Linked DNA regions of Homo sapiens. The protein of the gene in region 1 interacts with the protein of each later gene in a biochemical or structural test. Each region holds a gene or a part of one and is shown on either strand. Other genes may lie near its edges. The genes, in order: NME1, PRUNE1 and FBXO24.

The links.
Region 2: the proteins of NME1 (region 1) and PRUNE1 form a complex in vitro, tested with the Homo sapiens proteins (one study listed by BioGRID).
Region 3: the proteins of NME1 (region 1) and FBXO24 form a complex in vitro, tested with the Homo sapiens proteins (one study listed by BioGRID).

The regions. Positions count from the first base shown.
Region 1 is NC_000017.11:51,159,461-51,162,668, forward strand, and holds the end of NME1 (nucleoside diphosphate kinase A), read left to right. Parts: intron 1-519; coding exon 520-621; intron 622-1,699; coding exon 1,700-1,812; intron 1,813-2,267; coding exon 2,268-2,385; 3' UTR 2,386-2,708; downstream 2,709-3,208. Other genes in the region: NME1-NME2 protein, read left to right, coding at 520-621, 1,700-1,812. UniProt on the Homo sapiens protein: Major role in the synthesis of nucleoside triphosphates other than ATP. The ATP gamma phosphate is transferred to the NDP beta phosphate via a ping-pong mechanism, using a phosphorylated active-site intermediate.
Region 2 is NC_000001.11:151,028,921-151,032,573, forward strand, and holds part of PRUNE1 (exopolyphosphatase PRUNE1), read left to right. Parts: coding exon 1-24; intron 25-3,653. UniProt on the Homo sapiens protein: Phosphodiesterase (PDE) that has higher activity toward cAMP than cGMP, as substrate. Plays a role in cell proliferation, migration and differentiation, and acts as a negative regulator of NME1. Plays a role in the regulation of neurogenesis.
Region 3 is NC_000007.14:100,598,895-100,601,692, forward strand, and holds the end of FBXO24 (F-box only protein 24), read left to right. Parts: intron 1-776; exon of another isoform or gene 777-908; intron 909-1,136; coding exon 1,137-1,307; intron 1,308-1,639; coding exon 1,640-2,005; 3' UTR 2,006-2,223; downstream 2,224-2,798. UniProt on the Homo sapiens protein: Substrate-recognition component of the SCF (SKP1-CUL1-F-box protein)-type E3 ubiquitin ligase complex.

The DNA.
Region 1 (3,208 bases):
ATGGCCGCCACCTGTAATCCCAGCTACTTGGGAGGCTGAGGCAGGAGAATCACTTGAACCCAGGAGGTGGAGGTTGCAGTAAGTCAGGATCACGCCACTGCACTCCAGCCTGGGTGACAGAGGGAGACTCTGTCTCAAAATAAATAAATAAATAAATAAAATTAGCCAAGTCTGGTAGTGTGTGTCTACAGTCCTACCTACTCGGGAGTCTGAGGCAGGAGGATCACTTGAGCCCAGGAGTTTGATTTTTTTTTAAATGAGATAGCTGGATTTAATTTTAATGTTCTGTGGTTTTATTATCAGTCAGTGCCAATAGGGAGACAACTGATATAAAATTGGAGAAGTACATTTAGTCCTGTCACTGCTCCCTTCCAGTGTGGAGAATGAATTGGGTTATAACAGAATCAGTGAGCCCAACCGCTCATGTTTTACATAGCAGGGTGGATGAGGGGAAATTAAATGGATTATATGTCCTTAGATGGTTTGGGGGTTATTCTCATTCTCTGTCCTGTTGAATAGGCTTCCGAAGATCTTCTCAAGGAACACTACGTTGACCTGAAGGACCGTCCATTCTTTGCCGGCCTGGTGAAATACATGCACTCAGGGCCGGTAGTTGCCATGGTGAGTGTGCCTGTGTGGGATACTCCAAGTATGCATTGCTTGTCATCTGTGCTAGGCTCTCTTCTAGACACTGGGGATACAGCCATGAATGAGACCAAATAGATACCTGTTTTCATATACCAGCTAATGGTTAGTGATAGGCTTCAGAAATGAAATATGCCCAGAAATGAATAGGAGTAGCAAATGATCACTTTAGATTGGGTGATCAAAGAACGCAATTTTTAAGCTGTGATCTGAATGACAAGAAGCAGCGATCTGAATGACAAGAAGCAGCCAGCCATGTACAGAATCACAGTGAAAAACATTTCCAGCCAAGCAAACAGCATGTGCAAAGGTCCCAGGGTGGGAATGAGCTTGGCTTTTTGAAGTACGGGAGGAGAGTTGAAATGCCCGAAGCCTGATGGGTGGGAGGGAAGTTGGGAGGTGAAGAGTTCAGAGGCATGGGCAGGGGCCTTCTCTCTTAGGGGTGTGTTGACCATATACTTCCTGAGTGCTGGGAAGCTATGGGACACTTCACACTTGGCATTTCTTTTTTTTTTTTTTTTTGAGACGGAGTCTTGCTCTGTTGCCCAGGCTGGAGTGCAGTGGTGCCATCTCGTCTCACCGCAAGCTCCACCTCCCGGGTTCACGCCATTCTCCTGCCTTAGCCTCCTGAGTAGCTGGGACTACAGGCGCCCGCCACCACGCCCAGCTAATCTTTTCGTATTTTTAGTAGAGACAGGGTTTCACCATGTTAGCCAGGATGGTCTCGATCTCCTGACCTCGTGATCCACTCCCCTCAGCCTCCCAAAGGGCTGGGATTACAGGCGTGAGCCACTGCGCCCTGCCCACACTTGGCATTTTAAGGAGGCTGCTCTGGTTGCTGTATGGAGAATACATTGTAGAAAGGCAAGCATGAGGGCAGGGAGATCAGGATCCTCAGTGCTGGAATAAGTGGATATACTCTATAAACATTTGTTCAGTGAATGAATATAATCTTAAGGGGCCTTTTTATTTTTCCTTTTTTGAATTAATAGTTGCCAGATTTTCTGCTGTGATTGGTTTTCTTCTTTGACCATATCTTCTTCTGTCCTTGGAGGTCTGGGAGGGGCTGAATGTGGTGAAGACGGGCCGAGTCATGCTCGGGGAGACCAACCCTGCAGACTCCAAGCCTGGGACCATCCGTGGAGACTTCTGCATACAAGTTGGCAGGTGAGATTTTGGTATTTTTCCCCCTTTTCCAAAATCTGATTTAGTTGCCACAAGGATTTGGGTTTCCGAGGCTGGAGGTAGACATGATACCATATGCAGGTTGATTTTATCGGAGTTTATTGTTTTCCTCCCTCTTAAGTTGGCGTTTGGCTTTGGTTGTTAACATCACTTAGTCGTACCTCTGTTACACGAAGTGTAGAACCTGGTACAACACACTTTGCTGGCCAGTCTTTCCTGAAGGCTCTCACTGTTTGCACCAGCGTGGCCGGGAGGGCTGGATGTGGGGAGGGCATTTTTCAGCCTTAAGTGAATGGCCATTGTAGGCTTTTTCTTTTAACATGGTCTAATGTCCATGGAGCTTCAGCTTTTATGCTGCTGTGGCTGTAGATTTCTGGCAATGGGCGCATTTTAATCCTTCTGGTCTTGGTCATGTGACTATCTCTTTCTCCACCCAGGAACATTATACATGGCAGTGATTCTGTGGAGAGTGCAGAGAAGGAGATCGGCTTGTGGTTTCACCCTGAGGAACTGGTAGATTACACGAGCTGTGCTCAGAACTGGATCTATGAATGACAGGAGGGCAGACCACATTGCTTTTCACATCCATTTCCCCTCCTTCCCATGGGCAGAGGACCAGGCTGTAGGAAATCTAGTTATTTACAGGAACTTCATCATAATTTGGAGGGAAGCTCTTGGAGCTGTGAGTTCTCCCTGTACAGTGTTACCATCCCCGACCATCTGATTAAAATGCTTCCTCCCAGCATAGGATTCATTGAGTTGGTTACTTCATATTGTTGCATTGCTTTTTTTTCCTTCTTTTCATGTACACTGAATAACCTGACCTAATAGAGAGTGTAAATACTATAAAAATGATTTATTTTGAGGTCTCACATACACACAGGCATTCTTTGCCTGCCCTTCTTAACCCCCGCATCCCTTCCACTCTTGGCACTGAGCTATTCAACAGGCATCTATGGAGCATGTGCTACGTGGCCAAGACTGGACTAGGTGCAGAGGATTCATCAGAAATGAAAGAAAACATGAGGGCTGGGTGTGCTGGCTTGTGCTTGTGATACCAGCTACTTGGGAGGCTGAGATGGGAGACCAGCCTGGGTAACATAGCAAGACCCTGTCTCACTAAAAAAAAAAAAAGAAAAATTAGGCTGGGTACGATGGCTCATGCCTTTAATCCCAGCTATTCAGGAGGCTGAGGAGGAGAATCGCTAGAGGCCAGAAGTTCAAGTCCAGGGTGGGCAACATAGCAAGACGCTGTCTTTACAAAAAAAAAAAAAAAAAATTAGCTCTGGTGCTGTGCACCTCTAGTCCTAGCTATTGGGAAGGCATAGGCAGGAGGATTGTGCCCAGGAGTCCAAGGCTGCAGTGAACCATGATCATG
Region 2 (3,653 bases), on another chromosome or scaffold:
CCCCATGTGGCACTCCAAACAACGGTGAGTCTGTGTCCCTTCTCCAACCTAAGAGCCTTACAGAGTCTGCCTGTATGTACCTCTGTGCTCTACAGCTGTCCTATAAGGACCTCTCTTAGGTTCTTATATTAATGTACTTACATGAGGTCCCTTGACCTGTTTCTGGACCTGTTTCCTCCCCTTTCTGCTTTTTCCCATTCTCTCTCTATATGAATATCCTTTTTTTTTTTTTAATGAACATCCTTAATCATAGCATTGTTGAGAAAGGGGGAATTCCAAAGAGAACTAGAGATTCAATTCCTACTTTGAAAGAACGAAATCTAGTTAGAAGGAAATGTTATAAATCCGGAGTTAAAATTCCCTTCTTGAGCTAGGGACAGTGGCACGTGCCTGTAGTCCCAGCAACTCGGGAGGCTGATGCAGAAGGATTGCTTAAGCTGGAAAGTTTTTTTTTTTTTTTTTTTTTTGAGACAGTCTTGTGCTGTTGCCCAGGCTGGGGTGCAGTGGCACAATCTCGGCTCACTGCAAGCTCTGCCTCCTGGGTTAACGCCATTGTCCTGCCTCAGCCTCCCGAGTAGCTGGGACTACAGGCGCCCGCCACCACGCCCGGCTAATTTTTTGTATTTTTAGTAGAGACGGGGTTTCACCGTGTTAGCCAGGATAGTCTCGATCTCCTGACCTCGTGATCCGCCCGCCTTGGCCTCCCAAAGTGCTGGGATTACAGGCGTGAGCCACCGCGCCCAGCCGAGCTGGAAAGTTTGAGTCCAGCCTGGGCAAAGATAGCAAGACCTCATCTCTGTTGGGGAAAAAAAAAAACAAAAACTCTATTCTTGGTTTAATCATTAATTCCTCACCCCTGGAATTATGCTGTTGCCTTGAAAATTAGAAATACGAGAGACCTTTTCTGCTACTTACTATGCAGGGATTAATTATTCTGTATAGTGCAAACTCTGTAAAGAAGTGATCTAGATCCAGATTTGGCTATCTTTCCTACTTCCTCCCCCTTCTGTTCCTCTGCTGGTTACTGATTAGCCTAGGGAAGAATTTAAAAGTGGGCTTAAGGCTGGGTGCGGTGGCTCACACCTGTAATCCCAGCACTTTGGGAAGCTGAGGCGGGCAGATCACGAGAGCAAGAGATCAAGACCATCCTGGCCAACATGGTGAAACCCCATCTCTTTTAAAAATACGGAAATTAGCTGGGCGTGGTGGTGCGTGCCTATAGTCCCAGCTACTCAGGAGGCTGAGGCAGGAGAATCTCTTGAACCTCGGCAAGCAGAGGTTGCAGTGAGCCGAGATTGCGCCACTGTACTCCATCCTGCCAACAGAGCAAGACTCCGTCTCCAAAAAAAAAAAAAAAAAAGGTGGGCTTAAGGCAGTTCAGGGATTCTGAGGGTTGCCTAGGCTCTGTGAGGACTGCTAAAGACAGAATACAGCCAGATAATCCTTTGCTCTCATAGAAGGTATGTCTGTCCTTTCCCGCCCCCCTTTGCCTTTGCCTTCTCCCCAGGAAGCAAATCTGATTTCATTCAGTGTAAGGTAGTTCGTCATTATGAAAAGAACTGCAGTTTTGTCTGTTTGTTTGTTTTTTAAGATGGAGTCTCACTCTGTCGCCCAGGCTTGAGTACAGTGGTGTGATCTTGGCTCACTGCAACCGCCACCTCCCAGGTTCAGTCAGTTCTCCCACCTCAGCCTGTAGCTGGGACTACAGGCGCCTGCCACCATGCCTGACTAATTTTTGTATTTTTAGTAGAGATGGGGTTTCACCATGTTAGCCAGGCAGGTCTCGAACTCCTGACCTCAAGTGATCCACCTGCCTTGGCCTTCCGAAGTGCTGGAATTACAAGCCTGAGCCACTGCACCTGGCCAAGAACTGCAGTTTTTAAAGTCAGGTAGATGTGCTTTTCTGTTCTAGGTTTGCCTCTTACTCACTCTTTGAGCTAAGGCAAGTCAGTTGACTTCTGCATCTGGAAATGGCATAATAGTACCTACTGCTAATTCTGCTATGATCATTAAACGTAATATCATGTGTAAAGCACACTCCTGGAGCAGAGTAAGCACTTTGTAAATAGTGGCTCTTACTAATCCTGTCAGTAAGAAAAGGGTGCTTTGGCCATTAGAAGTACCTCTTCCACGTTCCTGAATCTTCTCCCCTCTGTGCTGCTCTTTTAAAGCTGTGTGGATTTCTAATGACTCTACCATTGTCTAGGTTGCCCCTATGCTTGGAAACAGGAGTCCTTCTCTCTCTGTTTTGTTTTTGTGTGTGTGTGTGTGTGTTTTTTTTTTTTTTTGAGATGTCTCACTCTGTTGACCAGGCTGGAGTGGTACAATGGCACTATCTCAGCTCACTGCAACCTCTGCCTCCCGGGTTCAAGCAATCCTCCCAGCCTCCCAAGTAGCTGCGGCTACAGGCACACCACCATGGCTAGCTAATTTTTTTTGTATTTTTTGTAGGGACAGAGTCTCGCTATGTTGCCCAGGCTGGTCTCGAACTCCTGGACTCAAGTGATCCACCAGCCTCAGCTTCCCAGAGTTCTGGAATTGCAGGTGTGGGCCACTATGCCCAGCCAGGAGTCCTTTTCTTACAGTCTACTCTACCATCTCCTCTCTTTCTCCTATGTTAGGGGTAGTATAATATATTGATTTAGAACACTGGCTTTGGTGACAGCTCTGGGCTCAGTGTCAGTTTTGCTTCATGCAAATTATGACCTTAGGCAAGTTACCTGATCATTGAAGCCTCAGTTTCCCTGCATGTAAGTGAGGGTAATAGTGATACCAGTCTTATTTTGTTCAATTCATTCTTTCTTCCTCCATCCCTCTTCTGGCCTCTAGATAAATTCTAGTTCCATCCTAGTTCAAGTTCTTGAGCACATTTATACACTTGGAAACGACACTAGATTAGAAGCTGGGGTTCCTCGGTTCTGGTTTAACTGCCATCATCTGCATGATTTTACTCACAACCATCTTACTTCGCTTTAGTTACTTTAATAATAAAATGAAATATACAATCTAAACTGTTTCCTCTGTTTTTAAAATACTGTGTATGGCTGGGTATGGTAGCTCATGCCTGTAATCCCAGAACTTTGGGAGGCTGAGCTGGGCAGATCACCTGAGCTCAGGAGTTTGAGACCAGCCTGGCCAATATGGCGAAACCCCGTCTCTACTAAAAATACAAAAATTAGCTGGGCATGATGGCAGGTGCCTGTAATCCCAGCTACTCAGGAGGCTGAAGCAAGAGAATTGCTTGAATCTGGGAGGCGAAGGTTGCAGTGAGCTAAGATCGTGCCACTGTACTCCAGCCTGGGTAACAGAGCAAGAATCCATTTCAAAAAAAAAAAAATTAAAGTAAAATAAAATAAATAAAACACTGTGTATGAATCCCAGCACTTTCGGAGGCTGAAGCAGGAGGATTGCTTGAGACCAGGATTTGGAGACCAGCCTGGGCAACATAGCAAGACCCCATCCCTAGTCTATTAAATAAAAAATACAAAATACTAAAATAAAATACTGTGGGCCAGGCTTGGTGGCTCACACCTGTAATCCTAGCACTTTGGGAGGCCGAGGCGAGAGCGGATGACCTGAGGGCAGGAGTTCGAGACCAGCCTGGCTAACATGGTGTAACCCCGTCTCCACTAAAAATACAAACATTAGCCAGG
Region 3 (2,798 bases), on another chromosome or scaffold:
CTTGAACTGGAGAGGCGGAGGTTGCAGTGAACTGAAATCGTGCCACTGCACTTCAGCTTGGGCAACAGAGCGAGACTCCGTCTCTACAAAAAAAAAAAAAATGCTAGAGGCTGAGGTGGGAGGCCCGGAGTTCGAGATCACCATGAGCAACATAGTGAGACACTATCTCTATAGAAAATTTAAAAATTTAAAATTTAAAAATTATAGGCACATGCCGGGTGTGGTGGCACATGCCTGTATTCCCAACTACTCAGGAGGCTGAGGCAGAAGAATGGCTTGAGCCCAGGAGGTCAAGGCTGCAGTGAGCTATGATTGCACCACTGCATTTCAGCCTGGGCAACAGAATGAGACCCCATCTCTAAAAAAAGAAAAGAGAAAATAAAAATGCTAGAGTGGAGGCTGGGCTCAGTGGTTCATGCCTGTAATCCCAGCACTTTGGGAGGCCAAGGCAGGCAGATCACCTGAGGTCAGGAGTTCGAGACCAGCCTGGTCAACATGGCAAAACCCCTTCTCTACTAAAAATACAAAAATTAGATGGGTGTGGTGGCAAGGACCTGTAGTCCTAGCTACTTGGGAGGCTGAGGTGGGAGAATCACTTGAACCCAGGAAGGCAGAGGTTGCAGTGAGCCGAGATCGCACTGCTGCACTCCAGCCTTCCGACTCTGTCTCAAACAAAAAAAAAAAAAAGAAAGAAAGAAAGAAAAGATAATACTAGAGCAGGAAGGGAGGGATAGTGGAAGGGAAAGTCCTTCCTCAGGGTGGTGTTGGGGTCTAACCTGGAATTGCACAAGAAGCAAGTCTCCCCGAGGCTGGCAGGCAGGATGAGAGGCTGGACTGGCATAGACGGGTGGGCTGAGAATGAGGGGTACACCACAGCAGGCCCTGGGCTCAGGCAAGGAGCTGATTTTCTGGGGGCATAGATGAGATACCAACAGAAGTGCAAGACCCTATGTGACCAGTTAGAGTATGGGGGCTGCAGGGGTCAGCAGGGCAGACCTGGGGCGTGGGACAGTGCTGGCTCCCATTTCCTCCTCCCCAGTTCATTCTGCCCCGAGCCTTCCAGTCAACCTTTTCCCACCCCAGCCCCCCCGTCCCTTGGTGCTCCCTGCTCAGGGACCCTGGCCGTGTGTCCCCAGGTTTGTTACCTGCAGCGGCCCATCACCCTGTGGTGCGGCCTCAACCACTCCCTGGTGCTGAGCCAGAGCTCAGAGTTCAGCAAGGAGCTGCTGGGCTGCGGCTGTGGGGCTGGGGGCCGCCTCCCAGGCTGGCCCAAGGGGAGTGCCTCCTTCGTCAAGCTCCAAGTCAAGGTCAGAGCGGGGTCAGGAGAGTGGGCACCCAGGGAGGATGAGAGCCATGAACCAGGAAGCCCACAGGCTGTAGCTGGGGCTCCTGCAGGGACCCAGGGGGTCCCATTTCCCTAGCACCACCCCACCTCCCTCCTCTGCCGCACACCACGCTCTCTGCTTTCTCCCTTAGCAGACTGTGCTGGCCTTGCCCAACCTCACACACCCCTGGGACTTAGCCGGCTCAGGGCTGGTGTGAGAGGGAAGAATGCAATAGGCAGATTAGCCCGGGCACCCTGGGAAACCCTGCAAGGAAAGCACCACTCAGCCATGCCCCCTTTCTCTCCTCCTCCAAGGTCCCTCTGTGTGCCTGTGCCCTCTGTGCCACCAGGGAGTGCCTATACATCCTGTCCAGCCACGACATTGAGCAGCACGCCCCCTATCGCCACCTGCCAGCCAGCAGGGTGGTGGGGACTCCTGAGCCCAGCCTGGGGGCCAGAGCACCCCAGGACCCCGGGGGGATGGCCCAGGCCTGCGAGGAGTACCTCAGCCAGATCCACAGTTGCCAAACGTTGCAGGACCGCACGGAGAAGATGAAGGAGATCGTAGGGTGGATGCCCCTGATGGCCGCACAGAAGGACTTCTTCTGGGAGGCCCTGGACATGCTGCAGAGGGCTGAAGGAGGCGGGGGTGGTGTAGGGCCCCCAGCCCCTGAGACCTAATCCCCCTCATGCTAGCCTAGTCCCTGGAGGAGGGAGTCCGGCCCCAGGCCAGGGACTAAGGAGCAATGACCATTGTGCACATGCGTGTGGGAAGGGGTTGCTAGGGGGTGGGGACGGCTAACCAGGGTAAGAATGTTCAGGGGGCTGCCCAGGAGGGGCCCCCAACCTGACTATCATGGACAAGAGATTTGATGGATAGAATAAAAGGCTGCAGCGAGGCCTGGTGTGGAAGCCTTGGGGGCTGGGAGGGACAGGGGCAGGGATGGGGTGGGTGGGTGCCCGGCTTGGTGGGTGCAGGAGGGCAGGAGCCCAGGCAGGGGCAGGCAGCACAAGCAGCTCCAGGTCTCAGGTGCAGCAGAGCTGATGCTGCCTGAACCCTTCACATTGTTGTCCACTCCCTGCTCCCAAGAGCACACCTGGTCGTTTGGACTGGGAAGTTCTGGCCCTACCTTCTGGAACAACTCTATGCACAGATGCTCTTGGCTACCCCACTGGGATCCCCTGCCCACTAGACTTGTCCCCATCCTGAGGCAGCCTGTTCCTCCTGACCCCCGAAAGCTTCCCACCCATCTCCCTTCGGCCTGAAGCCAGCCCCCCTCCTCTCTCCCTTCTGTTTACCTCCCAGGTTTGGGCTCTATTTTCTACTCCTTCCACCTCTTCCTGAGTAACAAGGACACTCCCTTCATCCACACCCCATGCCTCCTGCCTTGCTTCCTGTACCTTCAAGTAGTTGGAAGAGGTCATGGGTGAGAATTCCTTCTCCTTGGCCTAGTCTGGCCCAGGTCTGGAGAGA